Regions from separate parts of the Homo sapiens genome. Here region 2 is linked to region 1. Evidence: fine-mapped expression QTL. Tissue or cell type: fibroblasts. Region 1 holds a variant in brackets; the other region holds the start of a gene. All regions are shown on one strand. Distances are between the middles of the regions.

The links. PIP is the estimated chance that this variant, and not a neighbour inherited with it, causes the effect.
Region 2: it holds the start of LMO4, and the variant in region 1 is fine-mapped to the expression of LMO4 in fibroblasts (GTEx, PIP 0.93).

Annotation. Positions count from the first base shown.
Region 1 is chr1:87,762,049-87,769,786 of GRCh38, reverse strand. No RefSeq gene overlaps it. Among named protein-coding and RNA genes, the nearest start is that of LINC01773, 140 kb to the left of the region's middle. The variant T/C (reference allele first, on the strand shown) is at 3,986.
Region 2 is chr1:87,325,446-87,333,183 of GRCh38, reverse strand. It overlaps LMO4 (LIM domain only 4), which reads right to left and starts at 4,304. Exons shown (of 5, transcript NM_006769.4): 1 at 3,940-4,304; 2 at 933-1,171. The coding sequence starts at 1,168. RefSeq lists enhancers at 1,183-1,821, 1,822-2,460, 2,130-3,675, 3,241-3,816, 3,817-4,394 and 1 more and silencers at 1,514-1,873, 3,240-3,329, 4,253-4,682, 4,933-5,102, 7,072-7,121.

The sequences.
Region 1 (7,738 bases):
TTGAGATTTTGCGTTGATTTTTACATATAAGACTGACTTGTGATTTGCCCATCTCATCCAGTCGTCATCTAGTGCTGGTTTTCAGTATACACTAATCACATAATGTGACTTGAGGCATGTTCTTTCCTCTTCTGTTCTCTGACATATTTTATGTGTAAAAATTATGTGTTCCTTGAATATTCAGTATAACAATTCTGTAAAACGACCTGATCTTTGTATTCTCTTGATGGGGAATTTTTAACCTCTGTTTTAATATTTTTTAACGGTTAATATGTACCCTCTTTATTTTTTTCCTCTTAGCCTGTTTGGTTGTGCTTTTTCTAGGAATTTATTCCTTTCAACAATGTTTTCAAATTTATTGCCACAAAGAGGTTGATATTATTCTTCTAAATTTCTATAGCTGTTGTTGTAATGACCTCCTTTACTTCCTCATATTGAAAAGTTTTACTAGTATCTGGTTAGTCTAGTCTGAGTTTTATGAATTTTGTCATCTTTTGAACAACCAACCTTAGGTTTTACTGATTTTTCTCTTCTCTGTATTTGTTCTCTATTTCATTAATCTTTGCTTTTATCCCTCTTATTTCCTTCATTTTATTTTCTTAAGGTTTATCTTGTACTTTTTTTCTAACTCTACAATTTAGATAAAGCTCATTAATTTTGAACTTTCCTATTTTTCTAGTGTTAACATTTAAGGCTATAATTTTTCCTCTAAAGACCACATTAGCTGCATTTCTCAAGTTTTAAACATCTATTACATTTAGTAATTTAATTATTTTTCTGTACTAAGTATTTTATAATCTCTATTATAATGGTTTCCTTGACTCGTTATTCATCTATAAATAGTTGAATTTTTTTGAAACTTGCTTTATGGTCTAGTGGGTGGTTGACTTTCATATTCAATAATTAGATACCATGTTTTATAGAAGTCTTTTAGATAAAGTTTGCTAAGTATGGCTTTCAAATCTATATTCTTATTCTTTTTTGTCTACTTGATCTAGCAATTGCTGAAAGAATTGTGTTAGAATACCCCCAATGAAAGCCGATTTATCAGGTTCTTCTTGTTCTAATATATATATATATATATATATATGTATATATACACGTTAGGCTGTATTAATAGAAATTAACACATCCAGAACTTTATATTTTTAAGGTACATTAAATCTTTTAACATTATATAATGATTTTTTAAATTTCCAGTAATAGTTTTAATATTAACATATATTTTGAATTATTTTATCATTACCATATACTAACCTTTTTATTGATTTCTATGTTGTTTCTTTTAATTTCAAGCATTTCTTAGTCATATATTTTAGACATTTTTCTTATAAATAACATATACGTGGATTTTTAAAAAATATTCTATCATCCAATATTCATCTTTTTCCCCCACTGTTTATCTTTTAAATGAAGTGTTTACTTCATTTCAATGTTTTGTAGTTACCAGTACACTCAGAATAATTAATCTATTTTATTTTGTACTATTTTTTCCAATTCTATGTTTGATAGAACTTCATCTGGGGAAATGCTTTGAGACCTACTTTCAAGGGGCTTTAATCTATACAGGATATTTATTACTTTCAGTTTAAAACTTTCAAATCAGGATATATTTTAAATAATTTATAGATTTGAATTAGTTTTGGCCAAAATGAAAGTGTAAATAGGTAAGGGCTACAAATTTGAGTGAGGGCTGGCTTATGAATTAACAGGAGAGAATTTTTCTTTCCACTTAAATGTAAATTTCTCTATTCCCCTGTAAGACAAGCTTTCTCCTAACTCACATATCCCCTGTGGATGACGACCCATGTGGTCTTGGCTTTATGTGAGGTGCTCCTGTCAGAATCTCCAAGTTAGGTCTCTAAGATTTGCGTACTATCTTTATCCCTCAAATTCACCAAAACTGAACTTTAGATCCCCAAGGAGTAGCAATTGCTTCTCACTTCTCTTGGTTTTGTTTGTTTTGGGGCTTCAGAAACCTTTCTACTCTAAATTCCTGCTTTCACTAATTTTTGGTTCTTGAAAAATTTATCTACCTTCTTGACAACTCGGTTAAATGTTTTTAAAATTTAACATATTTTTAATATATAATTTTTATGTTGGGATAATTGTTTAGGATATCTAGTTTTTCACACTACTAAACCTGAAAGTTCTTTCTTATTTTTTTCTTTTCTGTGTGTGTGTGTTTTTTTTTTTTTTGAGGCGGAGTCTCGCTCTGTCGCCCAGGCTGGAATGCAGTGGTGCGATCGCCACTCACTGCAAGCTCCGCCTCCCGGGCTCATGCCATTCTCCTGCCTCAGCCTCCCGCGTAGCTGGGACTACAGGTGCCCACCACCACACCCGGCTAATTTTTTGTATTTTTTTAGTAGAGACGGGGTTTCACCGTGTTAGCCAGGATGGTCTCGATCTCCTGACCTCATGATCCGCCCGCCTCGGCCTTCCAAAATGCTGGGATTAGAGGCATGAGCCACCGTGCCCGGCCTCTCATTTTTTTTCTTAAACATTTTTATTATATTTGAATATTGAAAGTCCATAAAGTTCATCAAACAATAAAATATTCATTCTTCATCATGACAAAGCTGTTTAAAGGGTAGTAGATGTGGAAAGGTCCAGGGATTAAAAGATTAAAAAGAATCTGTTGTAAATTTATTTATCTGCATATATACAGTGCTAAGAGAGAGAGGAAACAAAAGTGGAAGCCAGATATTCACCCATATCTGGCTATGATATTGTATGATATTCACCCATTCATCCAGTCAGTCAGTAGATAGGTATGCTGCACTTACTCAAGATCAGAAACTGGGCTGGGTGCTGGGGAGTATAGCTGGGAACAAGACAGACAGGATCCTTGCCCTCACAGACCTTACTGCCCATCTGAAAGTAGGCTGAAGATACAGAGGATTTGCTGAAGGAGACAGAATGGAGAAAAGCCAGAGCATAAACAAGAGCTGATGTGAGCAAACAGGAAGGCCATAGACTACAAAAGGCGTGGCTGTTCAAGTAGAAGCAGCCTGAGGAAATCAGTTAGAAAATGCCAATCTTGCACATGGCAGTGGCATTCCAAGCATGGACCTACATTCGTTGGGGGCAAATACGATCTCTTAAAGGACCATGATGTCTAGAGATGAGAGCATTTAGAGAAATTTCTAGACTGACACAGTTTTTAAATATCTGTAATAAGATTTTTGCATCTGTCGTATGTTCCAAATTATAGTGGATAAAGTATTATGAAATAGCAATAAATGAACTAGAACTAAAATCCCACGTCACTTTTGTTTCCGGAAGACAAGAAACCTTGTATTCAACTTGAATCTTATGAAGGTGTTACACATCCCTGACCATTGGTCACTCTTTGGATGTCAAAAATGTCCTTTATTTACACTTTATGCAGCTTAATTCAATAACAATTTTCCTGGTAAGTGCTTCTCATGTGCCACTGGGGAACAACTGCTTTGCTACACTGCACTTAAAAGGAGTTTAAACTAAAGAGACACAAATTTTACCCTCTTATCTACTGTGGCTGTTAATATGCTAAGAAAATAATATTTTAAATTATTGAATTTGCGCTCCTAGGAGACATCAACATAATTGCAGAGAGGCACCTTTAACTTTTTTATATACTTATTAATAAAGAAGAACTTTCTATTCATACACCAAAAAATTGGTCCAGTGGAACAAAACAGTAATGCAATAAAACTTCTAGTTCATTAAGTTGGAATGCTGGGATTGAATTACTAATTTATGTTGTTTTTAATTTCATATTATAAATTCTACTATTTTAAATTATAGGGAAAAACTGTTCCCTTGGAATCTGCCTACATCCAACACTGACTAGGAAAGTTTTATTTGTCCCTGGGGAGCTGGGAAGTAGGGGGATTCACTGAAAAATTGCTGTTTCACAAGAGCACACCATGAAACATTCATAGTCATGTTTCCTGCATTACAGGAAGCTTAATAAACATAGCCAGTCACTTATAAATACTCA[T/C]GTCATTCTAAGGCATGTTAAAGGCATCTTTATAAAGAAAAAGGTGGATTTTGAAAATTCGACTTCAGAGGTATCAGACATATTTTCCCAGAGATTGCCCTCTGAGACAAGGACAAGTGCACAGTTTACAGGCGATCAGTGCTCTGGAAGTGAAGGGAAGGAAGTATGCAGAGTTGGGTGAAGGAACCACCCTTTCTTCTCTACAAGGACTGGAAATGGGCATGACCAGGGTGCAGTGAATCTTGGCAGCCCAGCCACTTGCAGTAGAGGGCTGTAGCTGAGGGCTGTCTGCTGGCAGTGCTGGCAACTCACAGCAGCAGTCCTGAAGGAGGGTCTGTGAGGGGCATCACGGCATCCACTATTAAGAAGAATTTCAATAAAATCAGATAAACATGTGTCCAAAAGTAACAAAGGAAAAATATCTGACTTGGAAGATTTTAGTCCATTAAACATTGTCTTCATTCACTTAGCAACCATTCCTTTGGTAATTATTTTGTGCAGCCCTTTCACTGGATGCCATGGAGATGAATTAATCACGGGAGGAAGGGGTCATGAGCACTGAGCACCCAGCGCAGGCCAAGCATTTTATATAGAGCTCTCCAACCAATCCTCACAAAAACTATATGAGATTGGTACTGATTCTGACGAGAAAACCGAGATTTTATGAGTGTTAAAAATTAGTCCAATGCCACATGGTAAGTAAGTGGTAGAACAGAGAGGCAGTCTGTTCTGCCTGAGCCAAGTCCACACTGTTCCCAGGGCAGACACAAGCAAAATAGAGCTGTGCCACATTTCAAGTACAGGCAAAGATCTGAGAGAAGTGAATAAATCTAACTAACTAGAAGAATGAAGATTAGGGGAGCCTGGAAGACCAAGTAGGATCCCCAGGGTCTGAATAAAAAGGACAAATTGAAAAAGGTGCATGATGATTAGGGACATAAAAGTAATTCATTCTCCACACAGGATTCAGTGTGATCCTTCTGAAACCAAACCACGCCATACTTAAAACTCTCACCCTATACCTCAATCCAGCAGGATTCAGCTCAAAATCCTTAACACAGCACACAAGGCCTAAAGCCATTGACATACTCTGGTCTTTGCTTCCCTTGCCAGCCCCAGCCCTTGACATTCTTCAGCTTAAAATCTGTACCCAGGTTAGGCTGAACTGCTTTCTGTTCACCCAGACTTGCTCTTGCGGTCTGCTTCTCTGTGTCTCTCTCTGTCACCCTGTCCATCTCTCTTTGTGCCTCTCCCAACTTTCTCACTCTCTTCTCTGGCTTTCTTTGTTTTTTCCCTGTCTCTCTGCTGTCTCTTTCTTTCCCTCTGTTTCTGTCTCTTTCCCTCTCTCCACCTTCCTATGCATCCGTCTACTCCCACACTAGGCCTCTGAATATATATTTTACTCTTGTTGGGACACTCTCCACTTTGCTGCCTCTCACCTCACAAATTCCCATTCATCTTTCAGGTCTCTGCTGCAGGGTCATTCTGGGAAGCCTTCTCTGGGTTTGATGTCTTCCTACATGCCTCTACAGCTTCCTGTGTCATCTACCCTATAGCAGTGTTCTCACACTTTATTAAAACATCCTTTCTTCCTAACACCATCTGCTCCTCACCGGACTGTTAGCTCTTTGAGAAATAGGACTTGTCACATTCACACTATACCACTTGACCCATGCATGGTAACTGGTGCACAGTAGGCATTTAATCATGTTTCAAAGAACAAAGGAAGGAAAGAAAGAAAGAAGGAAGGAAGGAAAGAAGGGAGGAAAGGGGAGAGGGAGGGGAGGGAGGAAGAAAGGAAGGAAGAGGAGCAAAGAGAGAATTGAGAATTATATTTGACAATTCAGATTTATAAAATATCAACTCTTACAAGAAGCTATTGTAAAGTTTACTAATAGATTTTGGATGAAAACAAGAAAAGGAAATGTAGGCCGTTCAATTTCAGAATGTTTTCCTGTGAATGCTAAAATGTGCCTCTTGAACTAGAGGATGTTTGGTAGTAACTGGGAGAGAAAAAGCTAAAAAGTTTTTCAGTTTTTCAATGCATTTGGAGCATCTTTATTGCTATGGTCTTGACATTTGCTACATTTGCTGTCTTGGTTCCTTTGGAGTTCCCCTACTGAAAAGTAGATTTTTCTTCTTTTGCTTTCTTTTTCATTCAGATCCACCCTCTTACTCATAGTTTTGTAACTCTTCAATTATAAAACTATTATATGCTTATTACAGACATTTTAGGAACTGCAGAAATATATAAAGAATAAAACTCACCCCCAAATGTTCCCACATAGAGATTGCAATTATATGTGTTTTCCCCCCTTCTCCTTCTTTTTCTCCTCCTCCTTTATTACAAAATTGCAATAGAGCTATATATTCAATTTCACATTCTGCTTTTTCCCCCACAAGACATAACATAAACTTTTCCCCAAGTCATTAAAAATTCCTCAGAAGAAAGATTTTAATTGGTATGATATATTTAATTATATGAGCACATCTTAGTTCATTTAACAATTCTCTCACTTGGGAACATTCAGGTTCTTTTTTTTTTTTTTTTTTTTTTTTTTTTTTTTTTTTTTTTTTTTTGAGAGAAGGTCTTGCTTTGTCGGCCAGACTGGAGTACAGTGGCAATCACAGCTCATTGCAGCCTTGACCTCTGGGGATCAAGTGATTCTCCCACTTCAGCCTTCTGAGTTGCTGGTACCATAGACACATAACACCACACCTGGCTAATTTCCATATTTTTTGTAGAGAAAACATCTTGCCATGTTGCCCAGGCTGGTTTTAAATTCCTGGCCTTGAGAGATCCTGTTGTCTCAGCCTCCCAAAGTACTGGGATTATAGGCATGAGCCACCAAGCCTAGCCTTCAGGTTACTTTTTATTTTTATTTTTTTATTGAGACGGAGTCTCACTCTATTGCCCAGGCTGGAGTCCAGTGGCGCGATCTCTGCTCACTGCAAGCTTCGCCTCCCAGGTTCATGCCATTCTCCTGCCTCAGCCTCCTGAGTAGCTGGGACTACAGGTACCTGCCACCATGCCCAGCTAATTTTTTTGTATTTTTAGTAGAGACGGGGTTTCACCGCATTAGCCAGGATGGTCTCGATCTCCTGACCTTATCATCCACCCGCCTCAGCCTCCCAAAGTGCTGGGATTACAGGCGTGAGCCACCATGCCCGGCCCAGATTCCATTTTTTGATAGAAACATAACTAAAAAATAAATTAGCAGTCAGTCTTGATATAGCTTAAAATTGCCTCATATTTGGAATGGTGCTTTTAGTTATACCAGACTTCTCCATTTTGGCTACAGCTTTTTTATCTACTATTCATTTTTAAAACTTCAGTTTGATATATAGAAACTAAATGCCATTAAGGAAAGTCTTAGATTAATCTGATAGCCCTTGGGAGAAAAAAGTTATCTACGTTAATTTATTCATTTATCACACATTATTAATTGCTGTTCTGTGGTTGAAGTCTAAAAACTGTGGAGATTTTAATAAAGAGGACTTCTGAGAGCTTATGGTTTTCTGTGGCAACCAGTCATCTACACGAATAACACTAATGGCAGACTGTGGGCTCAAAGTCATGAGAACTCAAACAATTAATATTGTAAATATATTTATAATATATAAAAGAGGGAGAGATCTTTTTCTTTTAGGGTGCATTAAATGGCCCTCAAATAATTATAATATTCTAGAATAATTTATTTGTTTAATGTGTTATACAATGTATTTATGTATGCATATATGCATGTATGTATG
Region 2 (7,738 bases), 440 kb after region 1:
AGTAGCTTGAGTTCACCTGAAAAGATCCTATAGGCACCTGACCTCCTGAATTCTTTCCATTAATTGCACTGCAACTTGTTGGAAAAGACTGCTTACATGGACATATGAATGTTCCTATACATTGCTTTAAAATGCAAGATTAGTATAATTCTATAGCCTTTTTCTAAATCTCTTTTGGGGATCAAGGGCAGTGATACAAACGACAACAAAAAACCCAAAACCTGAACATGCTTCAATTGAAAAAAACTGCAAATTCTACATCGCAAACCACACACTAACTGAATTATTGCAAGCCTCCGAGTAACAGTATGAAGAGAAACATTACCACCAGGTTTTATTTCTTGGGACTTTTTTTTTCTCTATAAGAAGAATTACAAGTCTTTAAACTGATGGATAATTAGCATTTTTCTCAAGGAGCACAAAGAACGAATCACAGCCTTCCGCTCAAAAAAGTTTCAAGATGCTTATGTAAATATCGTTAATAAGCCATCGCCATAGACAAATCATTTCTCACTAACTACACTTGTATTTTTAAGTCAACCTTTGTTTCTGGGTTCCTCTGTGAGTTCCTACCTTGTTTTAAGAACGCAGCTTAACTCCCGCTTGGGATGTTTGCTTTTAGCCTGAAGTCCAGTAGAGGCTGACCACTTACTTAAACTCTAGGACCAGAGGGTGCTCAACCTTTGCACATCTAATGACCCAGTCCCACCAGATGGTCTTTACTTAGTATGGCATTTGCCATGAATTTGCCATCAGATATTGGAAGACTAACACATGCTTCCTGAACCCCTTAAATTCCGCCAACTAGAAGATTTTTGAGGTGAAGGCTGCATACTCCCCGTAGACGCCTACTCCTTTCCTCACAACCCTGTTAACCTTTGGCCTTGCCATTGCTCTTCCCCCCATCTCCAGGAAAGACAGCAAAGTCTTACCTAATGTAGTCATTTCTGCAAAGGATCATGCCACTTTTGGTGTAACAGGACGTGCCGATGTCGCCCAGCTGCGCCTGGCAGCAGGAGCACTTGAGGCACCGGCTGTGCCAATAGCTGTCCATGGCATAGAGCAGAAAGCGGTCCGCAATCTTGCCCCCGCAGCCTGCGCACCGCTTCCAGGAGAGGGAGCCGGCCGTCACCGGGGGCGGCTGCGAGCTGCTGCCCGGATTCACCATGGTCTGCAGAGGGCGGGAAGGGGACAGGGAGAGAAAGACAAAACAGGGGCGATGCAAAAGTTAGTAATCGCCGGAGAGAGAGCAAGCCCATTCCCCTCCTCCCCGCGGAGCTGCTGGAAGGAAACAGCAGGGCAAGGGCGGGAAGGAGGCTGAGGGGGAGAGGGAAGAAGGGAGGCTCGCCGGCAGCAGCCGCCTGTTTACTTTTCTCAAGCTTTGTTCTGGGGCCACGAGCTCCTCTCAACTTTCCTGCGCTTGCCGCCGCTGACAATTTCAGCTCCGGTACTGTCAAAACTCCGAGAGCAGGCTCCGCTGCGCGCTCCACCCCTCGCGGCACCTCCTCCCAGCCCCCGCCTCCGCCCACTGCCCCCTCCTCCCCTCCTCCGCCGCCCGCCTCCAGCAAATGAGGGTCAAACCCACCCACCGCCGCGCCCGGCCCCTCCCCAGCCCCCGCCGGGCCCCGGGACAGAGCCGAGAGGAGTGGGGAGGCGGCGGCCCCGCCGGAGCCTCGTTCCCTCCCGGGTTCTGCCCCGGGAAGTGCAGCTGCAGTTCACAAGTTGGAAATAGTTCGGTTTTCCGAAAGGGAACGAGGGAGGGACCGGCAGACGGGAGACGGAGAGCGTGGTGATGGGAGGGAAGGCAAGGTGACGGGAGGGGTGGGTGCAGTGTGTAAAGTTGCGAAACTGGTTTTTCGTATTTTAAGCAGCACCTTTCACATGCCATTGTGGTGACCGCCATCTCCCATTATTGTTCCAAATCTCATTTCATTTTGAAGATCAATGAGTGTTTTCTCTGGGTTTTCAGGACACAGGCAAGAATAATAGATCATTGAACTTTAGGATGCCTGTTAACTTCCTATACAAACACTCTCCACTTTGGTCTCACTAATCTGCCCTTGATCAGCAATTTAAATGCTAAAGCTTTGTTCCTCCAAAGGGCGGGGGGGGGGGGGGGGCGGGCGGCGTTACAGATAATGTGCGAGAAGGCACCATTAAGGGATGCACAAGTTAAATTCGAGCCCGTCCTGCTGTCACCAAAAACTGCTTTAAAAAAGAATTCCCCACTCTAATGAATGCCACAAGAGATGCAACTGGGATATAATATAGGAATCAATTTATAAAGCTTAGCCTAAACCGATTAATTTGTTGCCTTCAATCCCGAGTCCAATAAAGTCCTAGTGTTCCTCTAGTCACTTATTCTGTAAAAAGATCAAGTTATTTACTGCCAATTAAGCAGCCTGTATTGTCTTTGTCCTCTGTAAGCTGAGAGTGTGGGCTCCCCCTGAGGCTCCCGGCTATCTGCTCAAGACATTCAGCTGATACCTCAGAAGAAGGCGAACTTTGCCTGTACCCGGCCCAACTTGGCTGCTGCAAAAAAAACGAGGAAGGAACGAAACAAGGACTCGGGTTCCTTAAATAGGCCGATTTTAAACACATTTCCTCCGAAAGAGTCCCGGAACGTGTGTCCAGTGACCGCACAATAAACCAGAATAAGAACTGCACCAATTAAGCTGTAACAAAACCCTGAGACTTTGGAAACAGGACCACTCTAAAACCCATTAGCATTGCATTTATCCGAATGCATCATACCTTTATGTAAATTGATTTATCTGATGCATTTACTCGAGGAATTGCTTTTTGTTACAATTTCAGCCCTAACCCAAATGAATCTGCATTTCCTGCCCTAGATCTTTAAACTGTTTCCCCCAACGTTTTAATCGCTCCGAATTCCTTTTTAAAAGGAGAGTGAGGGAGGAGATTCCAAGCTCTTCCCCGCCCCCATCTTTAGTGAGAGGTAAATATATATGTATTTTTTTTTTGAAAAGGAAACATTACACTGAGAAAAGCATCCAGTAACCCCATTAGCTAAAGCTCTTAAGGACAAGCAATACCTTAATGCTGATTAAATCTAAAAGAGATGAATCAAGAAGACTGACCAGAAACTGACTCCCCTGATAACTAAGGACGGGCCCTCATCAAGTTTCATTTAGAGTTGGAAAAAAAAAAAAAAAAAAGAAAGCTTTTAAGTTAAATAGGCTTATACTCTAGTAATTACATAGCCAAGCAATTTAGGTCCTGGGATAGTCAGTGAAATAGAAAGCAGAACTGGCAGCTAGAGGCAAAATCTGCCCCCCTTTAACAACGTCTCTGGTGTTTTTTAATGGAGACCAAGGGAGGGACAAACGTAACGCTGGCAATTTGTAGTACAAAAATGGATGCTTAATTCATGTCTTGATTTTAATTAGGTGATTCACCGTATTTCTCCTGGATTGGAACAAAAGACTTATAAGCCAAGAAGAATTTTTTTAAAAGAACCAGCAATACCGAATCCTGCTCACTTAGATCCTTCCTGCCACTGTTTCAAAAATAGTGTTTACTAGAAGGGAGGGGGGGTATCGTGACTATCCCCACCCCCACCCCCCCAAACACACTACTTCTCATACTTAAAATCCTCATCTAAGCACCCCTTGCCTTTCCCTTATGAACTAGAAATATCCCCACCCCCTCTACGGTCCCCACCAGCCCCGTTTCCAAGAAGAGCCCTTTTGTAAGCAGGAACCGCTACAAAGCTGGCGGCCCGGGGCTGCCCTCCGCGCTAGCTCGCAGGCCGGCCTCGGTAGTTTCAGACTCGCGCTTTATCTAAGCCGACGTATTGTTTACTTGCAATTTGGGACGGTCAGGGGAAGGAAGCCAAAGAAAACAGCCCTGGCCCGAATCGACCCCCTCCCTCCCTCTCCCACCTCCCGGCCCGCGGCTCTCCACCCGCCCCCTTACCTGCTTTTCCCCTATATTGCAATATTGCGAGAGGCGGCGGCGGTGAAATGCGAGCGAAGCCGCTCGGCTTCCAGGGAAGGGGCGCCTGGGCTGGCGGAGCTGGAGGGAGGGAGGGAGTTCTCGCAGAAGCAGGAAAGGGGAGGAGGGGGCTAAGGGCGGCTTTTTTTTTTTTTTTAAATCGCGTTGCTCTGGGGCGGGTTGGGGGGCCCCCGCGTAAGTGCCGGGCGGCCGGGAGCAGAAGTGTCAGTCTCAGTCTTCGTCCTTCTCCGCCTCCGACTGCGCGCGAGCAGCTGCAGGAGCCCTCGGCCCGCGCGGCGCGGCTTCAGGCGCGGCGCAGCGGCAGCAACTGCTGCAATCGCTGCTGCAAGTTTGGCAATGTGGCTTCACTTTGTATATTCCCCCGCCCGGGGGCCCCCGCCCCCGCCCGCGCTCCTCCCGCTCCTCCTCCTCCTCCGCCGCCGCCTTCCTCCCTCCCGCGCGCTCGCTCGCTTGCTCGCTCCGGGATGGCAGCGGCGGCTCGGCTGAGCTCCCTGCACCTCCGGCCGGGAGCAGTCGCAGACACAACAGCCCCGGGAGCGGCGGCGGACGGTGCGGAGGCCGGCAGGCAGGCGCACCCAGGCGTCGGGGGCTGCGGCCGGCCGGGCCCGGCGCGCTGGAGCCTGCGCCGCTGCCGGGGCTGTTGCTGCCCGGCTCGGAGGCGGCGGCGGCGGCGGCGCTGGCCTCTAGCCGGCTCGCTCGCTCCCTCCGCGGCTCTTACACATGTGTTACTGACAGAGCAAAATCCCAACTACTCCCCGGCTCTGCCTCCGACGTCAGCGACCCTCAGCCACTGGGCGGCCGGATTGTTCAGGCGGAATAATAAAACCTGCCAATCCGGGGAAGGACAAAGGGATGACTGAAACGAGACTCGGGGGGCGGGAGAGAGAGCGAGGCGGCAGAGCTGGCCGACAGAGGAGAAGGGAAGGGCCCGAATCAGGTGGGGTGAAGTGACCCGGGCGCCTGGGGCCGGGGACCCGCTTGGGCTGCCCTTCGCGACCCGGGATCCGGAGTCGAGACGCAGGGCGGGGCCTCACCTGCCTTCTCAGCGCACGGGGACCCTGAGGACCCGCGCCCGCTCGCCCCTCGGGGACTGCCATCCCCTCTATCTGAGAGGAGACCCTTAGGAAACTTACCATCTTTCTCAGAAATGGGTCTCTTCCTGTTTGGGAAGATAAGTCCTGCATCTTAGGGCAGTGGACTTCTATCCCCTCACGCACAAGCACACAGAAGAGGATTTTTGTTGTTGTTTCTTTAATTCACGATATTGGAGATTTATGAACCGTAGTGGAAGCTTAGTTAACAAGGTAGAAACATAAAGGAAATAATAGTTGCTAGCTAAATACTGCCTACTTAGCCTCCCTCATACTCCCATTTTTCCGAGTTTGAAAGTGCCTAGCAGGCATTTCCTGGATCCTTGTCAATTGCTGGTGATGTAGGGAGCACAGTCCTTATTTTCAAAGTTGACGAAAACTTAAGGGAGAAAGCCTTTCCCGACTACCCTCCTCACTGTGGAGGATGAGAGGCGGAAATTCTCACAGCCCCCAAAAGCAATGGAAGTAATTGCAAGATTTGCAATCTCACAGCCTCTAGAGAGTAAGAAATGTCACTTCTAGTATAAATCAAGTTTTGAGGAATGCTTTTAGGGTGCTAGCCTGAGAGTCTTTTTCCAAGGCCGAAGCACAGCCTAGATGCTTGAATACCTAGGCATTCGACTTTATCTACTCTGCCAAATAGGTTAAATAAATCTCCAGACTGAGGCTAATATTAGGCCTGATTATTGTTAGTAAGTTCCAGAGAGATTTTTCTGGTGGAAATTATCATGAAAGTGCAAAGCCCTTCTGCTAAGTATCATTAAGTAAAACCAGCCTTGTGGGGCAAGTTTTCATATTGTGTTACACACAGTACTGCTAGATTGAGGAAAGGAACCTGAAGGAGAATCTGGCGAGACAATGCAGATGTTGAACATTTAGGGTTTTAGTGTCTATTTGGGGGATTTCTGTCTTTCAAACCATCAAAATTAATAAGGCTGCATAAGAAAGAATAATTATTGCCCATACAGTCAGGTAGAGGGCATTTTAAATATCAATTCAAATACTCATTTTTTAATTCTAGCACCTTAAAATTAAATGAATTAATTTTATTGATTTGTATTTAAAGTTGCACTGCTATGATGAATTCACCTTGTGCACATATAAAAAACTTTTTTTAAAAAAAAGTCATTAAAACTATAATAGTAATTAAAATGTCCTACACAGAAAACAGCTACAGATGGGCATGATTAAAGAGGACCAACTTAGAAAAGATGTAATGCTGCTTGAAGGTTAGTCAAGAAAACTCAATTAAACCAGATGAGGAGAGGAACACCATAAACAAATAATACATTTGAATCCCCTGGTTCATTTTCACTTTTTAAATAATTTATAATAAAAGGAGATGACACAAGATCTTAGTGGGCTACAATTAAGTTATGATTTGTCATGTGCAAGTAAATTTCCGTCTCTGGGCCTTAATTTTCTCATCCACAAATGAGAGAATTAAGCCAAATGGTCTTTATTTTTTCTTTTTAAAAATGATTTTCTTAGATAGAGCACATAATGCATAGATGTATAACGAATTGTGGTACTTTTCAGGATTTTTCCTGAAGAATATGCACTAAAACGAAATCTTAATTCCTGAAGGAAATGTTAGAAATTTAACCAGACACATGTTCAGCTATCATTGAGTGATTATCCAGAGGATCCCGGTGGTGTTTGTGGAAGGAAGGAGAGTGAGATGGATAAAACTTTGAATAACAGAGCTCTAGGCTACAGGGCCTACATTTTAGGAGGTGGTTTTAGTGCTTCAGCTCTAATTCTGTGCGGAGTGAGGTCTTTAAACATGTCCTGGTAGATTGGAGTGGATGGGAGTGTATTACCAGAGAGCTTTATTTGCTGATGTGTGTTTATAGAAATACAAAAGCGATAATGGCTAACAGTCTCTCTTCTGAGAGGTAGGGAGTAAATACATTCACTGTAATCAAAATTCAGGTGTACTTTTACCACAGCGCCACCTCTGGGTAATCTTTATTTCTGCATTCTTTGCGTTTAGCAGTCCTTTCTCATCCTGATTTGTGGTCTGAAAATGCCTGGTTGAGTGGGTAGCAACGTCAATCTTTTATTTCCACTGATGCGAAACACAAAAACCTTGTAAACACACACAAATTCAGTATGGGTAAAGAAATTCTGTATTCGGATATTCTTCAAACAAATATTAAAAACAGTGCATAAAGTAATATTCCTGGTATGAAGTAAAATTGCCTAACTCGAAATAATGTTATATTGTGCCCCACAGTTGACGAAACCTCTGCTGATATCACACATTCATCATTCATCCTACTCATCTGCAATGAGATATAAGATTAGGGGGCTTTGGAAAAGAAAGATAAATGTAAATCGTTTCTTTCTTGAATCCTAATTAAATGTGGGAACCATACTGCTCCTAGATCAAGCCGTCATTTTCTCCACTTGCCCCAAAATTATTTGTTCATAGCTTCCTTTCTCGTTTATGTCCTTCAATCATAATCATTCTTTTCTCCAAGTGACAGTTCGCTAAGAATCTCCCATGGACAGCCAGAGGTTCTACACAGACCTATGCAGCCTTTAATGTCTGGAGAAAGTCTAGGCTATTTGATGCTGATATGACCTCCAAGACAACATGCCCCAGCTCTTTCTCAGGAAAAAATATTCTGTCCTTTTAAAGTCAATGCAAAACCGTTTTTGAA